3 separate regions of the Homo sapiens genome follow, and all the other regions are linked to region 3. The links come from fine-mapping of genetic effects on gene expression. A gene starts in region 3. Each other region holds a variant in brackets. All regions are shown on one strand. Distances are between the middles of the regions. Region 1 holds the start of LOC102723409 (a long non-coding RNA gene). Region 2 overlaps ARHGAP18 (Rho GTPase activating protein 18). Region 3 holds the start of ARHGAP18 (Rho GTPase activating protein 18).

Region 1 (10,984 bases), 150 kb after region 3:
AAAGTATCCCACTATTATTGTGTTAGAGTCTAAGTCTATTGGTAGGTATCTAAGAACTTGCTTTATGAATCTGGGTGGTCCTGTATTGTGTACATATATATTTAGGATGGTTAGCTCTTCTTGTTGAATTGATCCCTTTACTGTTATGTAATGCCCTTCTTTGCATTTATTTAAATCCTCGTTGGTTCGTTTTGTCAGAGACTAGGATTGCAACCCCTGCTTTTTTTTTTTTTTTTTTTTTTGCTTTCTATTTGCTTGGTAAATATTCCTCCATCCCTTTATTTTGAGCCTGTGTGTGTCTTTGCATGTGCGATGGGTCTCCTGAATACAGCACACTGATGGGTTTTGACTCTTTATCCAATTTGCCAGTCTGTGTCTTTTAATTGGGGAATTTAGCCCATTTACATTTAAGGTTAATATTGTTATGTATGAATTTGATCCTGCCATTATGATGATAGCTGATTATTCTGCCCATTCATTGATGCAGTTTCTTCATAGTGTCAATGGTCATTAAAATTTGGTATGTTTTGCAGTGGCTGGTACCAGTTTTTCCTTTCCATATTCAGGAGCTCTTGTAAGGCAGGCCTGGTGGTGACAAACTCTCTCAGCATTTATTCGTCTGTAAAGGGTTTTATTTCTCCTTCGCTTATGAAGCTTAGTTTGGCTGGATATGAAATTCTGGGTTGAAAATTCTTTCCTTTAATAATGTTGAATATTGGCACCCACTCTCTTCTGGCTTGTATGTTTTCTGCAGAGAGATCTGCTGTTAGTCTGATGGGCTTCCCTTTGAGGGTAACCCGACCTTTCTCTCTGGCTGCCCTTAAGATTTTTCCTTCATTTCAACCCTGGTGAGTCTGACAATTATGTGTTCTGGGTTGCTCTTCTTGAGGAGTATCTTCATGGCGTTCTCTGTATTTTCTGAATTTGAATGTTGGCCTGCCTTGCTAGGCTGGGGAAGTTCTGCTGGATAATATCTTGAACTGTGTTTTCCAACTTGGTTCCATTCTCCCTGTCCCTTTCAGGTATACCAGTCAAATGTAGGTTTTCTTTTTGGTCTTTTCACATAGTCCCATATTTCTTAGAGGCTTTGTTTGTTCCTTTTCATCCTTTTTTTCTCTAATCTTGTCTTCACTCTTTATTTCATTAAGTTGATCTTCAATCTCTGATATCCTTTCTTCCACTTGATCGATTCTGCTATTGATACTTGTGTATGCTTCATGAAGTTCTTGTGCTGTGTTTTTCAGCTCCGTCAGGTCATTTATGTTCTTCTTTAAGTTCGTTATTCTAGTTAGCAATTCCTCTAACTTTTTTTCAAGGTTCTCGCTTCCTTGCGTGGGGTTAAGACATGCTCCTTTAGATTGGAGGAGTTTGTGATTACCCACCTTCTGAAGCCTACTTCTGTCAATTCATCAAACTCATTCTCCATCCAGTTTTGTTCCCTTGTTTGTGAGGAGTTGTGATCCTTTGGAGGAAAAGAGGTGTTCTGGTTTTTGGAATTTTCAGCCCTTTTGTGCTGTTTTTTTCTCATCCTTGTGGATTTATCTACCTTTTGTCTTTGATGTTGGTGGCCTTCGGATGGGGTTTTTGTGTGAACGTCCTTTTTGTTGATGTTGATGAAGCTGTTCCTTTCTGTTTGTTAGTTTTCCTTCCAGCAGTCAGGCCCCTCTGCTGCAGGTCTGCTGCTGTTTTCTGGAGGTCCATTCCAGACCCTGTTTGCCTGGGTGTCACCAGAAGAGGCTACAGAACAGCAGAGATTGCTGCCTGTTCCTTCTTCTGGAAGCTTCATCCCAGAGGGGCACCCACCAGATGCCAGCCAGAGCTCTCTTGTATGAGGTGTCTGTCAACCCCTGCTGGGAGGTGTCTCCCAGTCAAGAGGCACAGGAGTCAGGGACCCACTTGAGGAGGCAGTCTGTCCCTTAGCAGAGCTAGAGTGCTGTGCTGGGAGATCCACTGCTCTCTCCAGAGCTGGCAGGCAGGAATGTTTAAGTCTGCTGAAGCTGCGCCCACAGCTGCCCCTTCCCCCAGGTGCTCTGTCCCATGGGGGTGGGAGTTTTATAGGGCTACTGCCTTTCTGTCAGAGATGCCCAGCCCAGAGAGGAGGAATCTAGAGAGGTAGGCTGGCTACGGTGGCTTTGCCGAGCTGTGGTGGGCTTCACCCAGTTAGAACTTCCCAGCAGCTTTGTATACACTGTAAGGGGAAAACAGCCTACTCAAGCCTCAGAAATGGCAGACTCCCCTCCTCCCACCAAGCTCGAGCCTCCCAGGTCGACTTCAGACTGCTGTTCTGGCAGCAAGAATTTCAAGCCACTGAATCTTAGCTTGCTGGGCTTTGTGGGGGTGAAATCCACTGAGCTAGAACACTTGGCTCCCTGGCTTCAGCCCCCTTTCCAGGTGAATGAACGGTTCTGTCTTACTGGCGTTCCAGGCATCACTGGGGTACGGAAAAAAAAAAAACTGCAGCTAGCTCGGTGTCTGCCCAAATAGCCGCCCGGTTTTGTGCTTGAAACCCAGGTCCCTGGTGGTGTAGGCACCTGAGGGAATCTCCTGGTCTGTGGGTTGTGGAGACCCTGGGAAAAGCATAGTATCTGGGCCGGAATGCACTGTTCCTCACGGCACAGTCCCTCACAGCTTACCTTGGCTAGGGGAGGGAGTTCCCTGACCCCTTACACTTCCTGGGTGAGGCAACGCCTCACCCTGCTTCAGCTCAGCCTCCATGGGCTGTACCACTGTCTAACCAGTCCCAATGAGATGAGTAGGGTACCTCAGTTGAAAATGCAGAAATCACCTGCCTTCTATGCCGATCTTGCTGGGAGCTGCAGACAGGAGCTGTTCCTATTTGGCCACCTTGCCAGCCACTGTGAACTGTGACTTTTTAGTGTATATGTGTTCATTCAACAAATATTTATTGGGCACCTACATATATGCCAGACATGTTCTACCCTTGAGATGCATCAGTGAACAAAGTAACAAAAAGCCCTTACATTCTAGTGGAGGGAGACTGATAATGAAATATTAATGAGCAAATAAAATTCTATAGCATATTGAAAGGTGGTAAGTACAATGGAGACAAAAAAGATGAGCAGAGCAAATAGGACAAGATGTGGAGGGATAGGGTCATTGCAGCATTCCACAAGAAGTCTCGTTGAATAATTAACAACTAAGCAAAGACTGGAAGCAAGTCTTCAAGGAACTTGCCATGTAGATACCTGGAAGAATATTCTATGCAAAGAAAACAACTAGAACAAAGGTGCAAAGCAGATATGTGCCTGTTACCAAAGGTTGTGTGGCTGGAGTGGACTCAGGGCCGGTGATAGTAACAGGGCAGGGCAGAGAAGTAACACAATCATGGGGAGTGAGATCATGGAGGGCTTTGTGTTAGGGCGATTATTGTTCAAATCAGGACATTTCTGAGAGTGAAACAGGGCACTGTTGGTGAGGGCAGTAACTGTGGAGTGATAAGTACCCAGATTCTAGATATATTTTTGAAGGTAGAGCCTGTAGGATTTTTTCTGATACGAGAGGATTTTTAATCAAGGATAACCATAAGACTTTTGACTTGAGCCATTGCAAGGATGGATTTTCCAACAAGAGAAATAGGGAAGTGGAGGTAAATCAGGTACTGTTAGCAGGGATTCAGGAGTTCAGTCATGGATGTATGGGATTTGAAGTGCCTGTTAGATATCCAAGTGGCAATATTTTGTAGGCAGTTACATGAGCAGGCATTAAGGAGAGAAGTCTGGGCTGGATTCATCAGCATGCATATGGACTTTTAAACCATGACCTTGCATGAGATCACCAAGGGAGTGAGTCTGGGTATAATAAATAAAGTTACCGAGAACTCGGTCCTGGAGCTACCCAACATTAGTGGTTAGAAAAGAAAGAACTAGCAAAGACGTTGAAAATAAGTAACCTTATAGATAACTGAGAGACAGTGGTGTCCCAGAAGCCAACTGCAGGGGGCGTGATTGTAGTATCAGATACTACTTATAGTTCAAATGAGTTAAAGGGCAGAAGTTAACCACTGGCTTTACCTATGTGGAGGTCTTAGTAGACCTTAGTAGACTTACCAGTTTTGGTAAAGTGATAAGGATGCTTATAGCGGGGTTAAGAGAATGAGAATTGGGGACTGTGAGTATGGACAGCACTTATAAGGAGCTCTCCTACACACAAGGGAGCAAATAAGGCACTAGCAGAAGAAAGAGTTGGAAGTGCTTTACATAGGGCCTTTGATGCTGGGCAAAAGAGTTTTTTTAATTTTAAGCATTTTTTTTTTCAAATTTAAGTAATATTTTGAGAAGAGATGATATGGATACTGGAGCCAGACTACCTGGATTAACGAATGTGATCTTGGACAAGTTACTTACCTGGGCCTCATTTTATACTTTGGATAAAGATAATAATAGGAATATTCTTAGCAGCTTACTAGAATTAAACAACCATACAAAGGGCTCAGCAGCATACTTGCCTGATGGGATTTGATAAATGTATTTTTATTACTTGTTATTATGCTCAATATTATCAGAGCTGTACCTTAATAATTTTAAAACATATTATTCTAGGCCCGGCGCAGTGGCTCACGCCTTTAATCCCAGCACTTTGGGAGGCCAACGTGGGCGGATCACAAGGTCAGGAGATCAAGACCATCCTGGCCAACATGGTGAAACCCCGTCTCTACTAAAAATACAAAAAGTAGCTGAGCGTGGTGGTGTGTGCCTGTAATCCCAGCCACTCAGGGGGCTGAGGCAGGAGAATTGCTTGAACCAGGGAGTTGGAGGTTGCAGTGAGCTGAGATGGCACCAGTGCAGTCTAGCCTGGCAACAGAGTGAGACTCCGTCTAAAAAAATATATATATATATATATATATACATATATATATAAAATTCTGCCATATTCTATTTTTCTCATCAATACAGAGAAAAGATGTAACAGACCTATCAGTAATAGATCCTAATAAACAGATGAGAGAATGGTGGAAGAGTGGGCAGCACCTATATTTAGAAATAACCAGCCCTCCCTTGAAGGGTAATTCTGATAGCATCCCCCATGAACATTCCTTTCCCCAAGTTAGGAGTCATTTACTGGATATTTATGGAATGTCCCTCTTGATCTCATTTGGAGTTCTGGTTCCAGTGCCACACTATCTCACCTGGAAATCAGTGCTAGTAACTCTTCCTTGGAGTATCGGTGCCACTGTAGGGCATAGAAATAATTTTGTGAGAACATCTTTTTTCTACTTCTGTGAGCTCAGCTCAACTTTGAATATTATTTGTTTCATTTAAGTTAAATAAACTGGCATAAAGACAGAGTTCTCTCCCTGCATTTCAGACCAGAAGGTCTAGGAAGTAAAACTCTTATCCAGTTCATTTTCTGTCTTGATAC[A/G]TTGTTCACTCTTGGGACAATCCTGGGCTCTTTCAGTTGGCGTTAGCTGCTCCTGCTGGCAGAAGTTCCAATTCCTTGCCCTGGTGTTTCTGGGTCTGTGATCTCTCAAATGTTGTATTTAATACATATTAAGTGGCAATAATAATTTCCCTCCCATTTCACTTGGCCTCATATCTTGGAATCTGGACTTGGCATCCAGCTTCTCTTTTTCACTTGTGTCCTAAAGTTGTGTATGCAGTCGGTTGGCTCTGGTAGAAAGGATTCCAGATGAAACATTAGAACCCCCTCCTTCCATACAAGCATTTCTTCAAGTCCTTAAGGTTTCTTGGAAGAGTTTCATGAGTTATTTTCACATGTAGCTGCATACTGTATAGAGAAATAGATTGGTTGCAAGAAAAACTGCTTCTATGGTACTTCCAACTTAGTCAAGAAACACTGGCTTTGTCACAAGCAAGCTTTTTATCTTGAGATTGCAAGTCTTGATTTCTCAACTGAAGGAGCTCAGATAAGCTACAGAGAAAGCAGCTCCACTCTGTGCTATCTTTACTCCTCTTTTGATGTTCTCCTCTCGCTGCACCTGGGTAGCTCAGCGCTGCCTCTTGTTGCATCTCCTGTAACCTTTACAAAATAACAGCTTTCGTGTAATCTCTGCTGCAAGTCACCTTCCCCTCCAGCAAGGGCCAAAGTGAACAAGGAATTTCCCCTGGAGGGAAGTTCGTAAGGAGAGTCACAGACAGTGGCCCAATTCTGAGCAGTCAATCAGTTACATTTTTCTTTCACCTGAGTGTAGCTTTGTTACAATCACAAAAAGGGAGTGATTTAATCATTACTTGTGCCTTCACAACTCTCATTTCAATGGGGAAAATCTTGGGGTGTCTTAGCTTTGGTTGCTTGTATCACCCAGTTTGTATTGTTGACTAAACAAATACTAGATGTTTAAAGAATTAAAATTTATTTAGAGTCTTATTGAGGATTATATTTTGGAAAAATTGTCTAGAGATACGTTTTGTTAGACTTTTTTAATGCAGCTTAAATTATAGTTTTTATGTAGGGAGTGAAGATCCAGCATGTATAAAATTATATTAAAATTTGGGCCTAAGAGTATATTTGGTTATAGTTTGCGGGGGCATAATTGTTGATTTTGGCAGGCATGATTTTATGTGTAAGAACAGGTAAGGACCAAGTTCATTTATTTTTTAAGGAATGTAATGTCTTAGGCAAGAGATGTGGGGAGCTGTGTGCCCTATCTTGTTTATGTCTTTAAGGCATTATTTTGGAGATCCATACTTAGTAACAGAATCAGGGAGACTAAAATTATGTTGGCAAGTAAACATGACTTCTTATATTTGTTACTTTTTTGTCAAATATTTGGAAAAAACAAAAGGAGTTTTACTGAGAACATGAAGAATTAAATAAGAGATTGTGCATCTCCACTTGTCGAAGAATCCTGAAACATGTTCTAGGACGTGCTTCATTCATCCTCATGCTAATTATGATATTAAGAAGAGGGAAGGAGCCGGGCATGGTGGCTCATGCCTGTAATCTCAGCACTTTGGAAGGCTGAGGTGGGTAGATCGCTGGAGGTCAGGAGTTCAAGACCAACCTGGCCAATATGGTGAAACCCCATCTCTACTAAAAATACAAAAATTAGCTGGGCATAGTGGTGTGCACCTGTAATCCCAGCTACTTGGGAGGCTGAGGCAGGAGAATTGCTTGAACCTGGGAGGCGGAAGTTGCAGTGAGCCGAGACTGCACCATTGCACTCCAGTCTGGGCGACAAGAGTGAAACTTAGTCTCAAAAAAAATTAAAAATACAAAAAAAAAAGGAATTAAGATTCTTTATTCTTAAGAAACTGTTAGGTGTAACTAGATAATACATCAAAGTATACCGAGTTCATTAGACAATGTTATTTTGATAAGGAATACTCTAAATTTTCTGAAAGAAAAATGGCTATCCATTTGTTTTTCTTAGCATTTTAGTGCCTGCTATGTGCTATACCACAAGTTAGGTTGCGATGATGTAAAAATCAATTGTATGTGCATTTCCACAAGGAGATTGGATTTAGATTTGTGAATAGGATTAATGGGGAATGTATCCCTAGCAAATGGGCTTTGATTTGAGGGAAGCAGAATATGGGTACAACTGATTGTATGGGTAAAATGTAATGGGAAGATAGAGAAAGGACACTGTTAGTTGGGTAATTGTTAATGGAGATAGTGGTACTTAAGCTGGAAGTGCAGTTAGAATATTGAAGACTAGATCAGGTCAGAAATGATGAGGCTCAGAATTAGGGTTGTGGCAGTGAAAAGTGAGAACGGGGCAGACAGATGTTGCAGAATGAGGTCAAAAGGATTTGATGATTCCATTGGATGGAGAGAAGTGAGGGAGCGGAGTTTAAAGACGTTTAGAAGATGATGGTGCTTTTCACTGACTCCCAGAACTGGGAGAAGTACTGATTTGAAATGAAGGGATTGGGGCAAGAGAGGGGTAAGTATTATGGGTGTGAAAGGAGAGAAGATGAGGATATGTTGAGCTTACAGTGTTGAAGAAGCTGAACAGTTAGAACTGAGACATCTTTTAGGTAAGATTTCTTTGAAAATGTATATTTAGAAAATACTTTGCAGGGTGGTGATATTTAAAGCCATAGAAGCAAAACAAATGGTCCATTGAGAGCGAAGGGCCAAGAGAGGGCTAAGAACAACTTTGAGGAATGCCTTTCTCCACTTACAGGATGCATAAAGGGAGAGATACCTTAGAAGGAACAGTTCAAACCATAGTAGTAGTGTCAGAAGAGTAAAAATCACAGATGTCAGGGTTGACAGCAGGTTTAACAAAAAGGAAATGATCAACTATGTCAAATAATTGAGAGAAGTGAACCAGATGAAAGTTAAGTAGAAACCACTGGAGCTGAAGTCTATAAGTTCAGGGCTGACCTAGAGAGCAGGTCTAGAGTATTTTGGAGTGATGGGAACAGATGCCTATTGCCATAAGCCAACATGTAAATAGGAATTGGGAACTATGAATTTAGTTGGGATTGTTGGGGGAAAAGGCAGAGGAATAAGGTTTCTCAAGGCTTTTTTTCCCCAGTTGGATATTTTGCAGAGGGAAACTTGATCATAAAATAGTTTTCACATCTAATTTCTAATATCTGAACTATCTGTATTTCTATTTTTAGTTAATTCAAGAGCTTCTTGGTTCCTCTTATCTAAAATATTACAATGATTAACTTTTGAAGAAAACTGACTGTGCTAAAGTATCTAAAAGATCACTCAGAGTAACTTCTGAAGAAAATTGGGTTAAAGGTGAAAAAGCCTCCTTCTCCAAGAATTTTGCCAGTCCTTAAGGAAGACCAGTAATTTAAATTTTCTTTTTATGATTTTTACCTTGAAGAAACTTTTCCACATTTAAATCAAATGATTTTAAATTAAGCGTGTTTGGGAGCTGGTGTTAAAGAAGGGCTGATAACTCTGAGACACTAAAGCTTGTTCCATATTAGCAGCTTTTTTGAAAATATCCTTGGTTGGGAGCTGCTACCCTGATTCTCACTCCACATATAATAAGAGTTTTGCTCTGCCTACTATAATTTATATAGCAAAACCCAAGGAACATATACTAGATGCATTGAAAAATATGACGCCCTGTAAAACAAGACTTAGGACAAGTGTTACAGAAGGCTTTGATTCCAAATCCTAATTATTGGATGGCAAACAATACACCAAGTACACTATAATAATGTTCTTCAAAGTTTTCCACTTACATGTCCCCTAAAGTGATTATTACAAGGATGTATTATCTTGAATATTTTTTTCATTAAAATCTAACATTTTTCATCCTAAGTTTAAATAATTGCAAAGGACATTCTAATACTTTAAATTATTTCAAGAATAACATCAATACCATAGTGATTTGATACCCTGTTGTCTGTTTTTAAAAATGCATGGAAGCTCATCATTAATAGCAAGAACTTCTACGTTTTTTCCCCTTGAACTCCTATTTTTATTAGACTTTCTTCCTTAGAAGTTTATCCTAAAGTAATGTATTCAATGATACAAAGCAATTGTGTTTCTCTACAGCAAAATAAGTATATATGTTGAAGTTATTGTTGATGAAACAAAAATATATCACATATTTTGATAAAGCTAATAAAACATTTAAGTTTTATTGAAAATTAGGTTCTGAGAAAGGGTTTCAGTTTTTAAAAAATTTAGTTATCACTGGATAGATGTTATTCCTAATAAATTCAGCATCAATTTAGTCCTCTTTCTCAATTATATGTGTGTAGACACCAAGAAACTTTTTCACAATCAAATGTAAATTGCAATTATTTTAGTGATACTCAGAGATACTCAGTTTTTTGAATTTTTAAAAAGTTCATTATATGCCAAAAAAAAAAAACATAGATCTCTGTCTCAAAATTATTAGGTCCTTCTTTGTATTTTTTGAAACAATCTGACTTATATAAGGATTTATTACCCAGCTGTTACAATCATTCATTTTTTAATTTCTGAGAAGTATGCCAGAAAATGATTACTGGCTTGATGAGGAGAAAAATCTGTAAAGCTCTTGTTGCATATATTGTCAAATTGCTTTTTAGGAAAGTCATACTAATTTATACTTCCATCAATGACAGTTGAGTGATAATCTCAATGTCTTCTCACCATCATTTTCTTTAATATTCATTAATTTCATGGGTGAAGAAATGACATTTTGCTGTTTTAATTTGCATTTCATGGATAACTAATGAGGCTAATAATGTCTCATATGTTTGTTAGTGAATTCATAAAACCAGGGGAGATATCTTTTTATATTATTTGTTTCTCTGTTACAGTACTAGTTATATATACTCTATAACAAATATATAAACTGTATATTTAGGACCCTTAGATTTATCATATTTGCACATTGAATGAGTATGTATAATAGAGAATAGAAATGTTATAGAAGAGCACCTGGCCCGCAGTAAATAATGTATAAGTCAACCAAACTCAGCAGCATTGTTATTACAATGATAAATATTTCTTCCAATTTGACTTTAAATGTTTTTATTTTAACATAATGCTGCCTTTTTTTTTTGCCTTGGTGTTCCAGAGTTCTTCTGAGCTGAGAGATTATTATTCAATAAAGAAGGTGTTATGAACTGTTTTTATTTCCCCAATATTCATTTGTTAATTTGGAAATGAGGGCTTTGGGAGATAATTAGGGTTAGGTGAGGTTATAAGGGTGGGTCTCTTAGGACTAGTGGCTTTTCTTTTTAATATGCAAGATTTCATCATGAATTAGTGGCCTTATGATGGGAAGAAAGAGAGATCTCCCTTCTTCTTAATGTGTATGCATCAAGGAGGAAAGGTAAAGTAAGAAGGCAGCTGTCTGCAAGCCAGGGAAAGAGTCCTCACCAGGAACTGAATTATCCAGCACCTTTATCTCATGCTTCCTAGTCTCCACAACTGTGAGGATCAATTTCTGTTGTTTAAATCATCCATTTGGCATTCTGTTATGGTAGCCTGAGATGATTACTATAGAAGGCTTCCTTAGAAATTATGAACTATTTGTCCTTGGAAAGTTGGTATAGTTACAAATAATGTTGATCCTCATCCTCTCCTTGAA
Region 2 (10,984 bases), 23 kb after region 3:
GAAATCACCTTAACTGCTTTCAGGCGCCAAGATGCTATTTACTACAATGAAGTAGTAAATACTTCTACAAAATTCTGCCATTTAGTAAATAATTTTGTGCCGCCTTGACGTCGACTGGCATTTCATGGTCAGCTGTTCGTATAACTGGGGCAAATTGTATCATCACAGAAAAGAAAAATATATATTGAGCACTCTCTAATTCTAAGTACTTTAAGATGGAATTTGTTTAATCCTCATAAGATGAGAATTATTATCCTCATCTTAAAACTCAGGTACATGAAATAACTGGTCCCAGATGACATGACCTGTATGTAGATCAGCTTTGGTTTGAACCTCAGTCATTTTCATTGTACTGAGAGGTGTACAGTCAGTGCAGTTATTGTTTTTCTCTCTTCAGTGTGCCTGTGTCTGAGTGGCAGTGGGGCCTCAGTTCACAGGGAGGACATTTTCTATGGCAGGCTGTGGTCTGGCTCTTCCTAGCAGCATTTGGGGTGGGCCATGGCTGTAGTGGGGGCCACAGGAACCAAGGGGGAGGTAAGAATTCCTGTAGATAGAGCAGAAGAGAAAGCCCTAGGCTGGGGCCTTCTTCTCTCCCCATTAGTAATCATTTGAAAACTGGAAACTCCATAGATGCATTAAAAGTCTTCCGGAACCAGCATGACACAGAAACAAGATATGCTTTGAGAACACCACTGCCACCACCACCATCACTGCTGGCATTAATGGTTGTATTTTTCTTTAGAAGATGAAGAATCAGATCTTCTTAACCTTAGAAATAGTATAGTAAGATGACTGTGAGTCTCCTTATCTCCAGGTCTTCCCCAACAATCTAGATTGTTTCAGTACCCTTGCTGTTGCATGAGAACTTTCCACTGAAATCCAAGTGACAATTCTCTTTGGGTGTGAAACAGCTTGGAGTTCTCACAGTTACCGATGAACAGCTCTTTTTCATGTAGTAAAGCCATTTATATATTTCAGGGGGACAGAAGGACATTAAAGTCTTGGCCTACCACAGACCCAAAGGTTCTAAAATAAAATGACCTATTTGGTGGTTCAAAAGTGCCTTTGATTAAATTACTGGATATTTGAGAAGGTGATGAATGAGGGCTGGCTGGTGGGAGAGAATATACTTGTAATAATCTTTTAGTCATGGATCTTTTTCATAGCATGTGGATTTTCTTGGTTTATAAATATTAGCCAAGTGATCAACTCACTGCAGCTCTTTGAGGAGCTTCTCCATTTTTAGGCGAAGTAATTTGAAAGTTCTCAGGAAGCCAAAGGTACGGGGATTGCCTTATTCTTGGTCCTAAACCTAGACCTGTTTTATAAATAGATGATTTCCAGGCCAAGGTGTCCCTGTATGACATGTTCCCATAAATGTCCTGCTGCCACAAATTACAAATCTTGGCAAAAATAGAATTCTGTGTCCACTCAAACTGTTGCTGCTTTCCTAGGATGCCATCCCATGCTGCCTTTTCCCTGTAGAGTTCTGTGGGTGATGTCTGTATGTTTTTGTCTGTATGCTTTCATATTTATCCCCTAAAATTCTGTGCCTGTTTAACCACCTTGACATGATATCATTTCTCCGTACCCAGGCAAATGGTTTGTATGGAGGGATCTTCCAAAGTCAGCCAACCTAGTGCAGGGAGGACAAGGAGAGGGAAGGAAAATATGAATGAACTCTGTGTTACTGGGGACCCAGGCATGATGGAATATTCTTGAGAAAAGGGTCTGCTCAGGCGAGCTTAACTCCCTGGACAGCCTGCCTTTGAGGAGAGGAAAGGAAGGAAGCATGCATTTTGTAAAGAGTAAAACATTTCACAAGATACTGAAAACAAAATCCACAGAAATGCCCAGGCTGCCCAGCCTTTGACTTAGGCCAGTAGGCCCAGAGGTTGTCATTCAAAGAAAGAGGGGGTCTTTGGGTTTCAGGGCCAGGAACAGAAAAATGGGCAGGGGCCTGGAAGAGGAGAACAATTATGGAAGGAAAGGGCAGTTGCTCCTCCTCTGTCACTTTGCAGAGGTGCTGGCTGTGTCAGTGCTGAGGAAGCCCCAGGCCAAGCCCAGGTGGCCCCTGAGAGGATACTGCCTGAGGCACTCCTGGCAATGGAGGTGGCTTGCAAGAACAGCCAAGGACTGGAGAAGCCAGTGTGGGCTGAGCAGGAACGGGGATGTCAGATGCATGGACATAGCACTTCCTGGAGCACATGGCTGCAGGGAGGAGTAGATGTTGCCCCTCAGAAGCCTTTTGGGAACCAGAAAACAGATTGGGCAGTGGGTGGGTGAGGACTTCCACAATTATGTGAATGTAGTATCAGCCAGAGACCTTTTGTTTATTGCCATTGTTGGGTAGTTCACACCTCCGAGATTATGCTTCCTGGTTAGGTGGCCCGAGAAGCACTTGTTTAGGTATACTTTTAAAAAATTTTAATTGATAGCGCTCGAATACAGAATGTCACTTACAAAACTTTGTTCTGTGAACCCTTGGCCAGTAAGTTTTAACGCTTAGAGAGAGCCACTCTTCAAATTTCTACCTGAAATCGTAATAATCTAAGCATCTTGAAGAAATGATTGGAAGTGAATTTTATTAGGAAAAAACTGCTTACTCAGCAAAATGTTAAAGTGCACAGAATTCTTTTTAGATTAAGATAGATCTTTCCATGGAGATGCTAAAGCATTTCTGCATGATTCAATATTTTCCCACCCCCGAGTACTAGTTTTCTTTTTCTGTAAGTGGAGTTCTCTAGGCTTCTAAGGGCCCCATGCTGGTGAGAACTGGGGCCAAAGTCTGTGTAGTCTTTATCAAGGCATAAGGTTAGGGAAAGTGTGTGTTTATGTTGGAGGTGACTGTTTGGGGGTCATTCACTTCCTTCCTTCCCCCATAAACATACTACCTGCTTCTTCCCCATCTCATTTGTATTAGTGGACTAAATTAATGATTGAATAACCAGTTGAATTGTGAGGATTTTGTGCAATAATATTACATGCATTGTATTACTCAAAGGATCAGCTTATATTGAGCCCAATATATAAATTATTGAGATGCAAAACAATTGTTATGGGGTGATTTTGCATTCGAGTAGCATTTAAAAAATACAATTCAAAGGTAGTTTGTATTGAATAAGTAATGATAGCATTGAAATGAATTTTCAATTTCAAAGATTTTAAGAAAATCTTTGAAAGCATATAAATTTTGCTTTATTCAGATGTTGTGAAATATTGTGAATATTTGAAATTGTGAAAGCATATAAAATTTATTTGGTCTCACATGAATCTTCTAGATTGTGACATACGTTATTAAGCTGGTGAAATTATAGTATGAAATGTTTTTCTTTTCACGGGGAGGAATATGAAATGCTAGAAATCTATATATGCTGTATTATTGATATGTATCCTCTAATCCTGAATATCTTCAAAGTGAATATTTATAGTATTTAATATTTTATTTGCATTACATATTGGGAAAAAGTAAATGAAATATTATTTGTTTGAAAATGAACCTTATCTATAGATTCTAAAATTGTACTTGTGAGTAATGTAGACAATCAACTCTCTTTAGTCTCTGAATTGTTATGTTTTATTGTATTTGCAACATGAATCATTTTGCATTTGGAGAAGTTATATGTTGTATGTAATAATTGATGACTTGAGATGAGGGTAATAATCTACCACTTTTGTTTAAGCCACATCAGATATTAATTGTCACTATCTTAAGCATAGCATTTGTAGGTTTCTCTCTGATAAACATATATTTAGTTCAGCAGTGGTTTTATTCATTTTTGTGAACGGTTACACTTTAGGCACTGCATGTATGTGAAGATAATATAAGTATTATGAATACATTGTTGGTGCATTTTTACTTACAGTTTCCATACAAATCATTACACACACACCACATACACACACACACACACACACGTTTACATGGGCAGAACATTTATGTTGATTTTGTAATGAATAAAACATTATAAACGGACTGTTTGGCCAAAGTGCTTATATGTCTGCTTATTAACATAAGATTAACATAAGACTCATAATTTAAATAGATGTAATTACTTAAAAATGAATCAGCCTTCTTTAGAAATTAGATGACAAGTTTACTTACATGGCCAAACCTCTTTGTAGTTTTGGAATTCAGAATGGAAATTTGAAGGCTGGATGCCAGGAGTGTGGGAGGTACACAAAGAATCGTTTTTCCAGGAATGCTGTTTTCCAGGTTTCTGTGAAAAGCAAATGCGTGCCTTTTCTGAGTGATGAAATAGAGGAACAGAAAGGTGTCAATATATATGTATTCTGCTTACACACTCACAAGGATTCCTGCAATTATGCTGAAAGGGCATTTTAATGCGAACCTATAATGTTTAAGTGGATTCTTATTCCTGTATTCTTGAGGAAAGTACTCTGGTGAAGTTTTCAAATTCACAGCAATGTATGCCTGTTTCTCCTTCTTGGGGTAGTTAAAAAACAATACATGCCCATTTCAGCACTTTGGGAGGCTGAGGTGGGCAGATCATTTGAGGCTAGGAGTTGGAGACCAGCTTGGCCAACATGGTGAAACCCTGTCTCTACCAAAAATACAAAAATTAGCCGTTCATGAAGGTGCATGCCCATAATCCAAGCTACTCTGGAGGTGGAGGCAGGAGAGTTGCTTGACCCGGGAGGCAGAGATTGCAGTGAGCCGAGATCACGCTACTGCACTCTAGCTTGGGTGACAGAGTGAGACTTAGTCTCAAAAAAGACAAAAAACAAAACCATCCAAGCAACCAAAAAAATAATACATGCTGGTTTCTCTTATCCTCATGTGAGAGGGAAATCAGAGCTTCTCAGCTGTCAGGTTTCTCCTTGGTGTCTTTCAGGCTGGAGACTGGTAAGTTTGTTCCCAAATGCCTGACAAGGCCTCAGAGATGATCATTAGTGGCAGCACCCATTTATTCCTCCAGAAATTTCAGATTTGCTCCCTTGATTCTGCTTGTTTAATAAATTCCAGACAAAGAAGAGTAATAGCACATACGTTTTGCATGCTAAAGAATTACTTAGAATTTGCCTCTTGTTGGCTCTGTGACATTGAGATTCTCAAGGAGACAGGAAGAAAATAGAAGTTTTTATATTAGACAATAGTTAGATGCAGTGCTCTTAGCATCAGTCTATTGAATCTCCAAAATATGGAATCATTGTCACTGGTAGCAGCTATATTTGGATTTCATTAGCCAGTGTAGTAGCTACCAATGATAAGGCATATTTTTTTTTTTTGACTTGGAGTTTCATTCTTGTTGCCCAGGCTGGAGGGCAATGGTGCGATCTCGGCTCACTGCAACCTCTGCCTCTTGGGTTCAAGTGATTCTCCTGCCTAAGCCTCCCAAGTAGCTGGGATTACAGGCATGTGCCACCATGCTTGGCTAATTTTGTACTTTTAGTAGAGACAGAATTTCACCATGTTGGTCAGGCTGGTCTTGAACTCCTGACCTCAGGTGATCCACCCGCCTCGGCCTCCCAAAGTGCTGGGACTACAGGCATGAGCCACGGCACCCAGCTGATAAGACGTGTTTTTTAAAAACTGTGCTGTGGTAACTCCTTGGAGTTTGTTAACAGGTGCTTTATGTACTATCCCATGTTTTCTACTAAGGATGATAAGCACTGTCATATCTGTGTTACAGGACTGGAAGTTATAATTATTATAATGTTACATCATTTTTAAACCTTGCTATAGGTGTTTACAGAAGAATGACGTCTTACATCCAACTAAGAAGATCAGAGAAAGTTTCAGGTTTCATCTTGCTGGAGCAGTTGGATAGGATTGGGTTTTAGGGGAAAAAGGTAAATACATTCTGAAGAGAGAGAAGTTTGGAAGGGAGCTGATATGTAAGGATGCTGACGTGGCTCTTGGGGAGGAGAAGAAAAGACTGGAACGAGAGG[T/C]TGAGGCCACTTTGTGGAAAGTCTTAAAGGTCAATCTTGACTGAAGAATTGGGATTTCTTTTCATCCATGTCTGCTTGTGAACTGCCCACTCTTCAGAATACCCAATTGCTCCATCATGGATCACTGGGTCTACTGAACTGGAACTGTTCTGATGGATTGACACTGTAGTGGGAAGAGGGAGCTCTCGATGACGAGATGGCATGGTTTTGTATCTCAGATCTACCCTTATTGGTTAACTGACCGTGGGTGAGTTACAAAACATCTCTGTGCCTCAGTGGTGTTGTGAAGATTTAAGTGAGCTAAAGCACACAGGCCCACTGGAAATAACTTAAAAAAAAATGTTTGGTTACTATTGAACTTCTTATGCTATCTGAGACAGTTACCTCCTCTGTCGTGTCATGAACATAGTTTTCAATAAGTATGTGGAAGAATCTAGAGATATTGTGATGAGAGAGGGAGATGGTCAACACAGGTTAAGGTGTGGGTTAGAGGAAAGAATGGCACCTTGTATGAATTGTTGCCACTTCCTGTCTGAAGCCTGCTTTCCTAGAGCAAAGATCCTCTCCTATTTCCTTCACTTGTTCTGGGAAGAGAATGAAGGTGCGTCCTCAGTACAGCCCTGCTTTGATAGGGTTTGAGCCTGAGCCCAGGTGTCCTGATGAGTCCTGCTTGGTGCCTGAGGAAGAAGAAAAGGGTTGTTGTGGTTTGTCAGCCCCAGACAGGCAGGAAACGCTTTCTTAACACTATGTGGGTGAGGTTTCAGCTATATGCTGTGTCAGTAGATCCTCAGACTCTTGGCATTTCCAAACATTTGTAGTTTCTGGCATTTGCAGTAATTTGGAATGTTGGAAACTGGTAACTTACAACTTCTCTGAGACCCGTGAACTAGAGTTGCAAGTCCTAAAGGTGGGGTGCATAGAAACTGGTCCCTGCATACCTGTTCAACATCTGTAGCCAACTGTCATCTCAAAGGGATGAAACTGTGCTTGCAAAGAATGGTTTTATGGCCAGGCGCAGTGACTCACGCCTGTAATCCCAGAGCTTTCGGAGGCTGAGTTGTGTGAATAACCTGAGGTTAGGAGTTTGAGACTAGCCTGGCCAACATGGTGAAACCTCGTCTCTACAAAAATACAAAAAAAAAAAAAAAAAAGAAAAAAAAAAGAAAAAAAAATTAGCCAGGTGTGGTGGCCGGTGCCTGTAATCCCAACTACTCCGGAGGCTGAGGCAGGAGGATCGCTTGAACCTAGGAGGTGGAGGTTGCAGTGATCCGAGATCGCGCCATTGCACACCGGCCTGGGCCACGAGAGCGAGACTCCATCTCAAAAAAAAAAAAAAAAAAAGGTTTTATTAGGGAGGGAATTCAGTGAAAGATGACGGGATGACTCCCCTGACTCCTGAAAAATATATCAATCTGGAGAAAGACAAATCCATATAACTTATAACTTGTAACACTTAAACACTTCTATAGTTGCAAATCTGAGGATTCTGGAAGTTCAGCCCATATTTCTCTGGAATATCCAGGTGGGTGGCTTTCTCAGTATCCTAGGGAAGAGACTGAACTTTGAAGAAGTCGGTGCCCTGTGAGGAGCCAAGGCAGCTCTGGGTAAGCGTCTGGTCTTTGCCAGCTTACCTGCGCAGGGAACCTCTATCCTCATATCTTACTGGTGGAGTGGTAGGCTGGAGGCTCCTCTGATTGGTGAGATTTGGAGGTGAGGTAAGCTTTCAGATGCTCCCTGAACATCACTTGTAGAATGTGCAGAGAGTCTTATGGGAATGGCTGGGAAGGCAAGCTCACTAGGAGATGAGCAGCCCAGCCTGTAGGGGACAGTGCAAAGGAGAAAGTGGCTGAGGAACACAGGGCAGCCATGGTAGGAGGGTTTGGGAGCGTGGGAGTTCATATTTTACACTATGTTGGTACTTACCATGCAAATGAACGGCCCTGCTGGGAAAAGAACCTTTATCCAGAGAGGGGATCCGAGGAAATAGTAAGAGTTGGGTTCCGAGAAGCTGTGCTGCATCACGGGAGAGCTCGGTGTTAGGGTCTTTTGCAAAAACCCAAATTTATTTAATTTTCCTTTAGCACAGACTTTTCCTTTTCTTTTCTGATTTTTCTGCCCCTCCGCCCGCCCCCGGCAATGTAAGGGCTGAAGAAGCATTTTTCTTTTACAGTGGGGTCAACTTGCTTTTGATTTTGAAAGTTGTTGCCAACATACAGGCAGGGTTGTTGCAAAAAGACTTCTTCGTTTCCTAGAGGAGGGCTTGAGTAGGGAGAAAACCATCTGGACTTCTCACTTCTGGGAACTCAAGTATTAACTAAATTCATTTTTGTGTGTAGATCAGAGGGGAAAATAAGAGGAAGTGGGAGAGGAAAAAAAAAAGCTGCCTTGTATTTTTGAATATGGAAAAAACTATCAAGTGATCACCGTGATCAGCACATTTAATGGTTGCATTTAAGTCTGAATAGAATTTTTGAGAAGGCTGGGCTTTTTTGACATCTCTTTTTAATGAAAAATATGTAACAATAACCTTTATACAGTACCTTCAATTTGCCTGGTATTGTGTGCTTTATAATATCCTATATTTGAATATTGACTCATTTATATTTCACAATTTTTTTTTTTTAGACGGAGTCTTGCTCTGTTGGCCCAGGGTGGAGTGCAGTGGTGTGATCTCAGCTCACTGCAACCCCTGGCTCCCAGGTTTAAGTGATTCTCCTAGCTCAGCCTCCCAAGTAGCTGGGATTACAGGTGCCTGCCACCATGCCTGGCTAATTTTTGCATTTTTAGTAGAGATGAGTTTTTACCATGTTGGCCAGGCTGGTCTTGAACTCTTGACCTCAATTGATCCGCCCACCTCGGTCTCCCAAAGTACTGGGATTACACATGTGAGCCACTGTGCCCAGCCCTATATTTCATGATTCTATGAGAGTAGGTATAGTTATGGTCTCTATTTTATAGTTGGGGAAACCGAGGCCCAAAAGTGAAGAAAACTTGCTCAAGGTGACATGCTAGGAATGTGGTGGAGCTGCTTTGAAACCCTGGCAGCCTGGTTCCAGAGGCTGTCCTGTTAATTACTACGCTGTGTCCAGTGTCCACCGCCGGAGTCTGAGAAAGCAGTAATGACGTTTCTCTATTTCAGTGACCTTGCATATTGGATTTGCCCAGTTTACTTTGGAAGTACCCATTCCACTTTTCTAGGATCATGAAACACTGTATTTAATACTCAAATATCTTAGTGCTGATATCTTCTCTGATTCTAGAGGGCATTTCACAGATCTTACTGAAAAATTCCTTGGGGTAGTATTAGGCTTCGGGTTAAGTAATTTATTTATTAGACAAATTTCTTGGCTTTCATGATTTGGGTAAAGTATGGTCAATCTGTGTACTTCTGATTATATGCTAAACACGTGAAAGTCACCAGATGGCCAACTACGATGATTCCCATGGACTTCTACGGATATATTAATGCTGTTTTGGAGGACCCTCTGTGTGCCGCAGGCTCCATGACACCTAATGTTGGTGGATGCGTTCTGGTGTGTATGTGTTTCCATGAAATTTACAAACTAACACACAGCATTCTAACATGTTCACTTAGGAACTTTCAAAACTTTGCCCTACAAGACAACATTCTCAATAGAGAAAATTTAGAAAAATAGCAGCACAAAAGAGGAGGCAAAAGTCACTTATATTATTAATATAATACTACTCTAGAGCTAACCACAATTGAATTTTATTTTGCCTCAGTATTTTTTTCCCATGCACATTCCTAGGCATGCTATCTTAAAGCAACAGTTTGTGTAGTTAATCTGTTGCTCTCCCCACAGTTATATTTTAACTAGGGTACTGAATACAGAACGTTTTGCACATGCATTTTTGCTGGAGAAACCACAGATATGTAGCCATTTATAGTGTTTCTTAGCTATCGCATGCATCATTTCCTCTCCTACTTCCTCCTGTCACTGGCAGTCCTGCAGCTGGCCTGCCTTGCCACTCCTGACATCTGAGTCATCACTGACATCTCTCTCCCCAGGCCTGCTCAAGGAGCTCTTACTAAGCTTTGTTATTTTTTTCTCTCCAAGATTTTTCAGATCTGTACTTTATTTTTCAACGCCCCAACTCAATCCTAATCTGCACTTCAATCATCTCGCGCTGTCAGTGTCAGTTTCTTGGCTTTGAGCTCCTTCTCTTTTCAATTCACATTTTCAAAAGCCATTTTCTCCCAAGTGTTTTCTCACCTTTCCTTTCTTAGCAGAACTCCCCCCCGCCGTGGTTACACCTCCACGTTACTTTCCAGGTATGCCCACATCATTTTATGATTCTTGATGGTGTTCTCATTCACCATATCCACTTTGTGCAAGGCAGAGATACACCTTGCTGCTTTGTTATTGCATTGTTGTGAAAGGTAAATTGGGCTGGCCCCAGAGAAAATTGTGAAATAAGGAAAGATTTTGCCATCTCCAACCTCTATTTTCCATTACATTTTTGACTCATCAGGGCTTTTTTCTTCTCTGACTTGTTATCATTCCGCTCTGTAATTCATACTGCTAATCAAAATATGAAAGGATCTGATATTGGTTGTTTATACGTAAATGAATTTGATCACAAATTATTAACGTGTGATCAATGTTTTAATGAAATGAAGCTAATGCAAGTAGATATAGTTTTTCATTTCTACGGGAAAAAAAGCCCGTACTTGGCAGATAAAAAAACCAACAACCCTGTGCTGGTTCCTTCCACCTCAAATTAAAAGAAAAAACAAGGCCGGGCGTGGTGGCTCACGCCTGTAATCCCAGCACTTTGGGAGGCTGAATTGGGCAGATCACGAGGTCAGGATATCGAGACCATCCTGGCTAACATGGTGAAACCCGGTCTCTACTAAAAATACAAAAAGTTAGCCGGGCGTGGTGGCGAGTGCCTGTAGTCCCAGCTACTCGGGAGGCTGAGGCAGGAGAATGGTGTGAACCTGGGAGGTGGAGCTTGCAGTGAGCCGAGATCACGCCACTGCAGTCCAGCCTGGGTGACACAGCGAGACTCCGTCTCAAAAAAAACAAAAAAAAAAACAAAAAAAAAA
Region 3 (10,984 bases):
TTTTAAGATATTAGTAATTAAGGCCCAAGTTCTGATGATACTGATAACTTACATGGCCCTAAAATAGTTGTTCTTGCTACTAATTTGTGCACTTGTAGAGGGCAATGATCCATGATGATATGTGAATCTCATCTCTTCACCAGAAAAGCAAGTACACTAGTGAATATTTAAGATGCTCCATTTGTAAGTAGGGTACTAGGATTCCTTTTTTCCAGAAAAACTTTGCTTCACCATTTCTTCCCCTCTACTTTCAAGAAGGGAAGCAGAAAGCTTTGCCATTTTTGAGGACATTTCTAGGACTGAAAATTCCCCAATGGGCTCAGAATATAGAAATTATTATTTAATGACATTTGTGCAGTTTTATCAAGTATTTTGATAAAAAAATATAATACTCCAGGGACTACTTTAAAACATTAGAAGTACTGCCTTCATTTTGGAGTGGATAACCACCATTAATAAAAAAAGGCCGGGCGCGGTGGCTCACGCCTGTAATCCCAGCACTTTGGGAGGCCAAGGAAGCCGGATCAACTGAGGTCAGGAGTTTGAGACCAGCCTGGCCAACACAGCGAAACCCTGTCTCTACTAAAAATACAAAATTAGCCAGGTGTGGTGGCACATGCCTGTAGTCCCAGCTACTCGGGAGGCTGAGGCAGGAGCATCACTTGAACCTGGGAGGTGGAGGTTGCAGTGAGCTGAGACTGCACCACTGCACTCCAGCCTGGGCGACAGAGCGAGAGACTCCGTCTCAAAAAAAAAAAAAAAAAAAAAAAAAGAAACATGGCTTCCTTCCATTTTTCTTTTTCTCCAAGCCATGAATCAACTCATCCCTTTCCTTAGATCTGCAGCTTCACCATTCTTCCCCACTCACAGTGGCTGCTTTTACATAACAAGGGGATAAGCATCATTTGTAATCCACTGCAGGACAAGGATTTTTGTATTTGACAAATCTAATATTGATACAATTGTAGACTTTTAAAATTGAACCTTATATTCATAAACAAAATTCTACTTTTCCAGTACGTATTAGCCTCCAGAATATACTTCATCATTCCAGTTGCAAGTGTTTGCAACATGTATCTCCATTCTAGTTGTCAATGAAGAGAAAACCAAAAGAAAATTTAGGGTCATGGCACTTTTTCTTGGATAATTTCCAGCTTAGGCTAGTTTTGATATGAAGGGCAGATTTCTCATGAAGTTAAATGAGATTGAATCTTCAGAGTCTGGCTCTTGCATAAGGCCTCATCCAAGGCTCCATAGCTAACAAATTCTATAAGCTTTGGGTTCCGCACATCGAATCTGCTTTTTTAAGAAAAAAAAATTCATAATCATAGTGATCAGAGTACTTTTTTTCACTTCTATCAGTGGAAACAATTTTAGATATGATGGCACAATGATGATGACCTTTTAGACTAGTGTATATATTATGCCACACTACCCCAATAATTTGACATAAAAAAACAAGTTTCAAAGTACCAGAAAAGAATTGAGTGTAAATCTCCATAGCATTGTATTTATATCAATATTCCATTTGATTAAGGACCTTAGGTTTGCTGTAGATTATTTAACTTTGTTATTCATATGATTCTTTTCAGAAATAAAATGATGTCAATTCTAGGACTGCTGTAACCTTTATAATGCTTAAGAGCTCAGGCTCCAAGGTCACATAAACCCAGGTTTACATGTCCTGGTTCTGCCACCTACTAACTGGATGACCTCATATTCCTCATCTCTAAAGTGAGCGTAATTCCAATTTCTATCCCTGGTGGTGATTGTGATGATTAAATGATAGACCATGTATACCATGTCTAGCGAAGAGTAAGGACTCAATATTAGCTATTGTTATTTATTGGTAATAAACTATTTGTAAGAAACATCTTTTCTAAATGATTGCCGAAAAGCCTAAATTAGCCTCTGGCAATAGCAGTTACAAATTATCCCAAGCATGGCTAGTATTTTCTCGCAGGAGGAGCAGTTAAGAAAATAACTTTGAGAATAACGTAGACATTTTTAGAGCTGTCCAGAGAAAGGGAAAAGGGTTATTTCTTGTTGTTCCAGAGACAGAATTAATAACAATGAGTGTAATTCCCAAGGAAATAGTTTGAGATTCTGTATATGGAATAATTTTCAGTCATAGTACCCTAGCACAGAGGTAGCTAACTTTGTAAGCTGACAAGAACTATTCCTACGAGGTCCTGATAAAACATGAGGTAAGGGATGTTAAGAACTCTTCCTCTTCATTAGTCAATCCTGCTTCATATGTCTAGCCTTTATCACCTATGTAAAACTTTAACTTCACAGTTGATTAATTTATTCAAGTTCTTGTTATAATATTGAAAATTGGGTTTAATTTTACCATTTGGAAGGTCATTTTCACATGGCTTTTGTCCCTATGTAGATTTTCATCATCATATAGAGATTGTGTGTACATATTCTCCTTTAATTCTTTTTTTTTTTTTAAGAGAACTAGACCAATTCAGGAAAAATTTGATAAATTATATGCTGATTCCATTGCATGGCACTCTTCTAATACAATTCCTTCTAATACTAAATAGGCTCCTAAATCAACATATAAAAACCAGCTAATAAACTCTTTGCTACCACTAGCACTGAACTGAAGAAAAATTTTTTCATTGTTTTTGAACATGGGTGTCAAATTGTCAGAGACTGCAGTACCATCTTCACCCTATTTTTAACAACCTATTTGGGTACATAAATTACCGCTTCCTTTTCCTTTCCTGTGTCATCTAGTACACCTCATTTAAACAGAATGAATGAAATGAATGTTTAAACTGTCTTGATGTTGTTAATTACTTTTTAAGATGTTTCATAACAGGAAAGTGTTTGGCACGCACTCAATAGCTGGGAATATTAACATCTTCAAGGTCATGAGGTTCTCAGTGTGTGTTTAAAATGGTTGCGGAAAGGAGTAAAAAAGTGTTTTGTTTTTTTTCATAATATTTGTCTCTGCAAAAGAGCGATAATGGTATAAGGGATGGACATGAGCTAAACCTTAGTACAGTTTACAGTGTGAAATAAGAACAGGTTTTTTTTTTTGTTTTTGTTTTTGTCGTTGTTTTTCTTTTTTTCTTTTTCTTTTTTTTTTTTTTTTTTGAGACGGAGTCTCGCTCTGTCTCCCAGGCTGGAGTGCAGTGGTATGATCTCGGCTCACTGCAACCTCCGCCTCCTGGGTTCAAGCAATTCTCCTGTCTCAGCCTCCTGAGTAGCTGGGATTACAGGTGCCCACCACCACGCCACCCGGCTAATTTTTGTATTTTTTAGTAGAGACGGGGTTTCACCATGTTGGCCAGGCTGGTCCTGAGCTCCTGACCTCAGGTGATCCACCTACCTTGGCCTCCCAAAGAACAGCTTTTTAAGAGACCACACTGGTAGTTAGGTTTGCTTCTTTGATGACATGGGAAAATTCTGAAAACTGTTTTTAATCTACTTGAGCATGTATCTGAGGCTATGAACACCAGGCCACAGTCCTACCAGCTCTCTGCCTGTGATAGGTAATACCCTTCGACCAGTAGCAACAGGGCTTGGTGGGAGGAAAGGAGAAAAAGCTCAGAGGATTTTCAGGTATTTGAGAGCTAAATTAGAAGGATTCAAATTTTATGTACTAAGCTATGTAAATCAATTTGTATCACATTTGGTTTTCTGCCTCACAGAAATTAAAAACGGTGGATATTGCAAACCCAAATATTATTTTGACATTGTAAAACAATTACATTTCAACCTGTACATTGTGATTTGTTATTAAACAAGTGAAAAGACCATAATTAGGCAAAAATATAACTAAATAATTGTTTTGGCTATAACTGGACAAAATCTTCATCGCAAACTGTCACATGAGAGATGCAGTGCCCGTGGCTGCCAATGGGCATGGATGACATTGACAGGCTAAAGACATAGCAAAGGAAGAAGGAAAACTAGAAAAAAAAGGAAGATAATAAAAAGGGAGGTAGAGGGAAGTAAGGGGGGAGAAAAAGGTGGGAGGGAAACAGAAAAGAATTTCCAAAAGATAATGTAGTGATTACCATCAATAATTGTATAAGATAGTGATTCCCATATGTTTGCATTTCAGAGTAGCTACATAAAAAAGGAGGGGTGGATGAGCTGGTTATTAACATTTTTTCCATGTAAGGACACTGAAAAGACAAAACACATATATTCTAATTTACTTTAATCTTTGCCTCCCTCTCTTTATAGTTTTTGTTTTGCCTGAACTGATGAACATTTCCTCATAGGTTAGCACTGGTATGTGCATGGGAACCGCTTATCTAATATTACCAATTTTAATATAAAGATTTAGTAGAGTTGGCCGGGCGCGGTGGCTCATGCCTGTAATCCCAGCACTTTGGGAGGCCGAGGTGGGCGGATCACCTGAGTTCGGGAGTTCAAGACCAGCCTGACCAACATGGAGAAACCCAGTCTCTACTAAAAATACAAAATTAGCCAGCGTCGTGACACATGCCTGTAATCCCAGCTACTCGGGAGACTGAGGCAGGAGAATCGCTTGAACCTGGGAGGTGGAGATTGTGGTGAGCCGAGATCATGCCATTGCACTCCAGCCTGGGCAACAAGAGCGAAACTCTGTCTCAAAAAAAAAAAAAAATTTAGTAGAGTTTTAAAGGATACTTTCAATTCATTCAGGTTTTCCTCCATTCAGTGTTTACTGAAGGCTCAGTAGGTACAAAATTTAAGTTAGCTGTCAGATGAAGAGAAAAGAATCATAGTAGGACCTGAAAAGATTGTGTCTAGCAGATGGAAAGACTTGTATGTATAAGGTAGCAGGAATGCCCAGTGATCTGCTCAAAAGCCTGGAACTGGCTCTGTTAGCAATAGAGAGCCAATGAAGGTTTTTAAGCGAGGAGAGGGATCATGAGTGCCAGGGTGTGATCATAATGTCAAAGCAATTTAAAGGAGGTGACAGGGAGATGAGCTAAAAGGGCTGTTGTAATATTGGAGCTAAGACTGCATTATAGGATCCAGAGGTGGTTGAGGTCATGGGGATAAAAAGGAGACAGCAAGTAAAGTCCTATGGAAGTGGAAATGGGAAGGTTGAGCAGTTGTGCAGGGGGGAGGGAGGAAGATATAAATTCCTTTTAAGGAAGACTTTTGTAAATTATAAGAAAGAGGGTTCAAAAATAAATTTCAGATACTTCTAGAGTATGTAAGGAGGAAGAAATTATTTTTCATGACTGTTTTAAATAATGATAAGGTATAAGCAATAAGTTTATGTAATGATGGAATTGGAAACTTGTTCAAGAGGAATTCTAGAGAGTTGAATGAATCATAAAAATCTAAAAAAACCTTCAGACTACTGGGTATGTCAGAGTAGAAGCCAGGCGTGGTGGCTCATGCCTGTAATCTCAATACTTTGGGAGCTTGAGCCAAGAGGATTGCTTGAGCCCAGGAGTTCAAGACCAGCCTGGGCAACACAGTGAGACCCTCCCTCTCCACAAAGCATAAAAAAATTAGCTGGGCGTGGTAGTGCATGCCTGTGGTCTTAGCTATTGGGGAGGCTGAGGCTGGAGGATTTCTTGAGCCTGGGAGGTTGAGGCTGCAGTGAGTTACAATCACCACTGTACTCCAGCCTGGGTGACAGAGTGAGACCCTGATTCAAAAACAAACCAAAAAAGTGATTTTTTTTTTTGGAGGGGAGATGGGGAGAAAGAACAGAGCTGTCTTTTGTGTTTATGATAATTTTGATCTTGTTTCTTAATCTGCAAAACAAAGAAGAGCATACTGGTGAAAAATAAAAGGAATGTAGCCTAGAATTCTGTTCAAATCCAGCTTCTGGCACTAGCAACTGTGTTATCTTAGTGAAGTTACTTAACTCGTCCCTCAGCCTTACTTTCCTTGTGTTATGTATAACACAGATGATAGTGATACCTATCTTGTACGGTGTGTGTGTGTGTGTGAGAGAGAGAGAATTGAATGGAATGAGATAATACATGTGAAACCCCCGTCCATGAGAGCTTGGCATATAGTAGGTGCTCAACAAATGGCAGGGACTTCTCTTGTTCTCAGCAATAACACTTAACAGAGCATTGGTAGGTCTATCCCTTTTTGGTGCTGAAAAATATTTTGCTAAAACAAGACGTATATTTGAGATTGGCTTTATGTGAAAGACGACGACATTCCAGGACACACAATTTTTATGAGGGCATTTTTAACCGGACACAAGGATCAAGCCTTTCTCGTCGTCTGGATTGCAGAGTTTTGCCGCGGGTTCGTTGTTTTTTACTATGGCTAATTTTAACGCTGAACATGAAGGGGTTAAGAAATGCCTTTACTCATGTTACATTAAGTAGCAGAAATTATAAGATAGAGGAATTGGGGAGGGAAAAAAAAAAGCCTTGGCAGCAACTCATGGTTTCCTAAGTAAGACGGCTTGTAGTTACAGTGATGAGTTGAATATACGTTCTGGCAGTTTAATCTGATCAGACTAACTTGGGGGTGGGTGCAACCCGTCGCTTCCACCCTTCGCCTCCTTTAACCAAAGCCGCCCAGAGTGCAATTGTCCAGAGTTGAAACCATGCTGTGAGTTGCAGCTTCTAATTGGAGAGGCAGGAAGCCCTTCCCTGGACAGACCCCGCCCCTCCCCGTGTGAATCGCCAGCCTGCGGGGAGGAGCTGGCCAATGCTAATGAGCGAGTTGCCAGGCGAGACAGGAACTTCTTTCCCCTTCTCTGTGTCAGGATCGCAGAAAGTATGTCCCTTCTCTCACCATGAGCTGGCTCTCCAGTTCCCAGGGAGTGGTACTAACAGCCTACCACCCCAGCGGCAAGGACCAGACCGTCGGGAACAGCCATGCAAAGGCAGGGGAGGAAGCCACCTCGAGGTAAGCCTTCGGAAGCTGAAAACAAAACAAAACCCTCTTACCTGCTCCAGGAAGAAAGTGACAGGGAAGTTGGCGTGGGGAGAAGGGAATTCCATCTGCACGTCGAGCCTGAGCTCGTGCAGCAGCAGTAGCAACGTTTGGCGTGATTTTTATGTACTTTTCATCTCACCTAGTCCAAGTCTGAAATAACCCATATGATTACTGGTGAAGACAGAGAAGAAGGAACTGGGGAGAGGGCTATATGGGCTGTCAGACTAGCTATTTAGCAGGTGCATTTGCACATGCTGAAAGATCAAATAGGTCTATCTGAAACACTTCCTTTCCTATGAAATGGAATTCTTGAATGGGCTCAAGGCACTGCCACTGGAACTGTTCGCTGGGAAAGTCTGCCAAAAAGCAGGGAGGCTGTTCACTGTACTGTACAAGCTGTTGTTGTTAGAGTGTTTTTTTTCCCCCCTCTCTTTGCTGAAAGCAAACCTCTTAGGCAAAAAGCCCAAGACACTGGCCTGTGGCAATATGTTTCACATTCTTTTGTGTATGTGGATTTTTTTTCCCCCAGGCTTTCAAAAAGGAGTTTTTGTCAGGAGATAGCACTCTGCTGCTGGAGTGAAATGTGGTTAATGTTAAATCACTTTATAGGCAGAGAGGGCAAATGTTCTATAGACCACTGAGGCGCAAAGGGTACCTTTCTCCCTATCTGTGTACTTTGTTCCATTTTCCAAGGGCTTTTTTTTTTCTTTCTCTCCTTAATGACCTTCTCACTAGCTGAACATTTTTACCTCCATCAAGATATAAATAGTAAATATTGGCCTAGAAGATTGCAAGAAGCAAATACTAACCTAATAGCCTAGAACACTAAATTAGTTATCGGTAAGCACATTTCCTCCTCAATGCTTAATGTGATAATAAAACCTTCTTTGTTCTTATGTGACTTATGCCTGTGCCTTAAGCTGAAATAATGCTGCCTTTCATTTGTTTTAAAATCTCCAAATATGAGGGAGGGAGAAAAATCAAAGGAATGGCTGTAATACTCAGTGTTAGACTCCCAGCTGACGGGAACTGTTTCTCACATAGCATCCACAGTATGTATTTCATTGAATGAATTCATTTCCAAAGATAAAAAAGATTTGGTGCTTGTGCCTTAGCTGTGTTACCATTTCATTTTCCATCATTTTAAATGACTTAATGTTAAATCATTAAATCAAGAGATCTTGAAGTGTTTTCATCCATTTTTCTGTAATGTATTAGTAATCATTAAGCAGTAAAGCAGCCTGCAACACCAACCCCATACCCAGCCATAACTTGGATTCCACATGTCAGTCAAAATTGCCAAAATTATACAAGCTCAGGACATTCTCCGACTTTAGGCTGAATGGCCTGAGGACCTGAGCTGAATCTTGGATCTTGATTGTGAGAATGGAAAGGACCTTAAGGACTGAGTCCTAACCTCTCATTTTCACGTAGGACTCAAACCCCAGGGATTAGTTAAGTTTTTGGAAGGTCTGGAGTTCTAGGCCTTTGTCTGGGGCTGCATCTCCAGTTCTGGAGACTCATTATTCTGTGTTTGCAGTGTGGGTGGCCCATACTTGAGTGGGTTGAGAGAATAAGAGAGGATCAGATCATTCTCTGCCTAGGCTGAAGCAGAACCAAGAGGCACTAAGGTGGCAGGGTGGGCAGCTGCCCACACGGCAAGTGCCCTGTGTGGGGCCACAGCTCCAGGTGAGCTCCTTTGCTGGCTGTCACGTAGCCTGCCCATACCAGACCCAACTTCCCACCACTGAATTAGTTCTAGGGATCGTTCCTGATATTGACCGGAGAAGATGGGAGCCTGGTTTGAGGGCAGGGAGGAAGGAGGGAGTAGGGCTAGTTTTCAATGGCTTTTACCCTTAAGGGCTAACGAATCAGATAAACTTGTTGTTGTTTTGGGAGATACCCTGTTTAGCCTGAAAGGATTGAGATACTGTAATTGCTATGGGGGAGGGGATGGATAGAAGGAAGGAGGATTTGAAGGTGGGATGGGGTCCTCGGTGACCACCTAAGAATGGTGATAGTGGTTTCGGGGCGGTGAACTGGACTTTGGCTTTGGCTTTGGCTGGGTTGGTCAGGTGTTGTTTTAAGCCCTGGGAAGCTGCTCCAAGGTGCAAGGTTGATGGTTGATGCCTATTTAAAGAAGTTCTCCAAAAAGTAAAAACAAAACAAAACTCTTAAAAAGGCTACATTAGGCTGGGTGTGATGGCTCACACCTGTCATCTCAGCACTTTGGGAAGCTGAGGTGGGTGGATTGCTTGAGCTCAGGAGTTAGAGACCAGCCTGGGCAAAAAAAAGACCCCCGCCCCCACAGCTCTACCAAAAATACAAAAAAAAAAAAAAAAACAAGAAACCACAAACAAACTAGAAATGGTAGTGCATGCCCGTGGTCCCAGCTACTCAGGAGGCTGAAGTGTGAGGATCACTTGAGGCTGGTGGAGCAGAGATTGCAGTGAGCTGAGATCACGCCACTGCACTCCAGCCTGGGTGAGGGAGTGAGACCCTGTCTCAAAAAATAAATAAATAAATAAAAAATAAAAGCTAAATTAGATTCTGCATTTCCTCCTACCCATTTAAAAATTATAGAAGATAGCACGGAAGTATAACTTTTCTTATCACAAGATTTTGTCTGTAAGTAATATGTTCTTTGAAATATTTAATCCAATATTTAGTTCATGAGATGAATTCATGTCTTTATAATGCCATTTATACATATGTGTATGACTTAGCGTATTTATTGAAAATTGTTTCCTTTTTTTTTTCGAGATGGAGTTTTGTTCTTGTTGCTCAGGCTGGAGCACAATGGCGCACTCTTGGCTCACCACAACCTCTGCCTCCCAGGTTCAAGCTATTCTCCTGCCTCAGCCTCTATAGTAGCTGGGACCACAGGCATGCACCACCACGCCTGGCTAATTTTGTATTTTTTTTTTTTAGTGGAGTCGGGGTTTCTCCATGTTGGTCAGGCTGGTCTCGAACTCCCGACTTCAGGTGATCTGCCCACCTTGGCCCCCCAAAGTGCTGGGATTACAGGCATGAGCCACTGCGCCCAGCCTGAAAGTGTTTGATTTTTAGCCTAGCCATACCAAGTCTTTTTTTTTTTTTTTTTTTTTTGAGACAGAGTCTTACTCTGTCACCCAGGCTGGAATGCCGTGGCACGATCTGGGCTCACTGCAACCTCCGTCTCCAGGCTCAAGTGATTCTCCTGCTTCAGCCTCCCAAGCAGCTGGGATTACAGGCGAGTGCCACCACCCCTGGCTAATTTTTGTATTTTTAGTAGAGACGGGGTTTCACCATGTTGACCAGGCTGGTCTCGAACTCCTGACCTCAGATGATCTGCCCACCTCATCCTCCCAAAGTGCCGAGATTACAGGCATGAGCCACTGCACCCGGCTCCATGTCCTTTTTTATTACCATTTGGTCTTTTGAAAAGCTGAGATAGTAGGGAATTAATATTTTTGGAAGTAATTTGTTAGCTAAATTTTCTCCATTCCATTATCCCTCTTTATCAGAAAACAGTCATTGAATGTCAGATTAAGGAATTCCTCCCACTCCTGGTTAGAGCCTCTCCCTTTATAGAATCCTGTTTTTCTTTTGTATGTTTCCTCCTCAAAACATGAGGATTTGAAGAAATATGTTAACATTAGTTGTCATGGCCGACTTGTACACAGTTGAATGTTTCCAAAGGAAACCACTTTTTATGAGTAGCTATATTTATAAGACTTTGTTTACTTGTTTTTCAAGCAGGCTTCTTAATATTTAGTTTTGAAAAGAATTTTTTCGAAGAATATTGTGTTTTGTCTATTCTTACTGTTCTCTCTTACCTTCCCATTTTAAGAGAAATGGTTGTTTGCTTTGCATATTTTTTGCTAATATTTTAATATGAATGTCAAGTAACCTTTTTTATTGGGCCTTTTAATTCCTTAGCTAACTGAATGGACTGATGAGTGAGATATTTTTATGCCTTCTCTGAATAAATGTATGGCATTCATCATGTAAGGTCTTGTTGACCCAACTTGCCATTGGTATTGGGTAGGCAGAAACAAGAGGCACTACACAGGGGTGACATAAACCCAGAAACCCTGGGTTCTGGGGCCAACCTGTCTGGGGTCAT

What was found. PIP is the estimated chance that this variant, and not a neighbour inherited with it, causes the effect. A credible set is the group of variants that fine-mapping cannot tell apart.
Region 1: its variant is the best candidate, but not a certain one, in a credible set for the expression of ARHGAP18 in whole blood (INTERVAL, PIP 0.74).
Region 2: its variant is the best candidate, but not a certain one, in a credible set for the expression of ARHGAP18 in whole blood (INTERVAL, PIP 0.74).

What each region holds. Positions count from the first base shown.
Region 1 is chr6:129,560,550-129,571,533 of GRCh38, reverse strand. It overlaps LOC102723409 (a long non-coding RNA gene), which reads left to right and starts at 1,968. Exons shown (of 8, transcript XR_001743860.2): 1 at 1,968-10,984. The variant A/G (reference allele first, on the strand shown) is at 5,380.
Region 2 is chr6:129,683,059-129,694,042 of GRCh38, reverse strand. All of the region lies in intron 1 of ARHGAP18 (Rho GTPase activating protein 18), which reads left to right. Among named protein-coding and RNA genes, the nearest start is that of ARHGAP18, 22 kb to the left of the region's middle. RefSeq lists an enhancer at 9,705-9,999. The variant T/C (reference allele first, on the strand shown) is at 5,914.
Region 3 is chr6:129,705,886-129,716,869 of GRCh38, reverse strand. ARHGAP18 (Rho GTPase activating protein 18) reads left to right here and starts at 6,693. Exons shown (of 15, transcript NM_033515.3): 1 at 6,693-6,846. The coding sequence starts at 6,734. RefSeq lists a silencer at 6,340-6,419.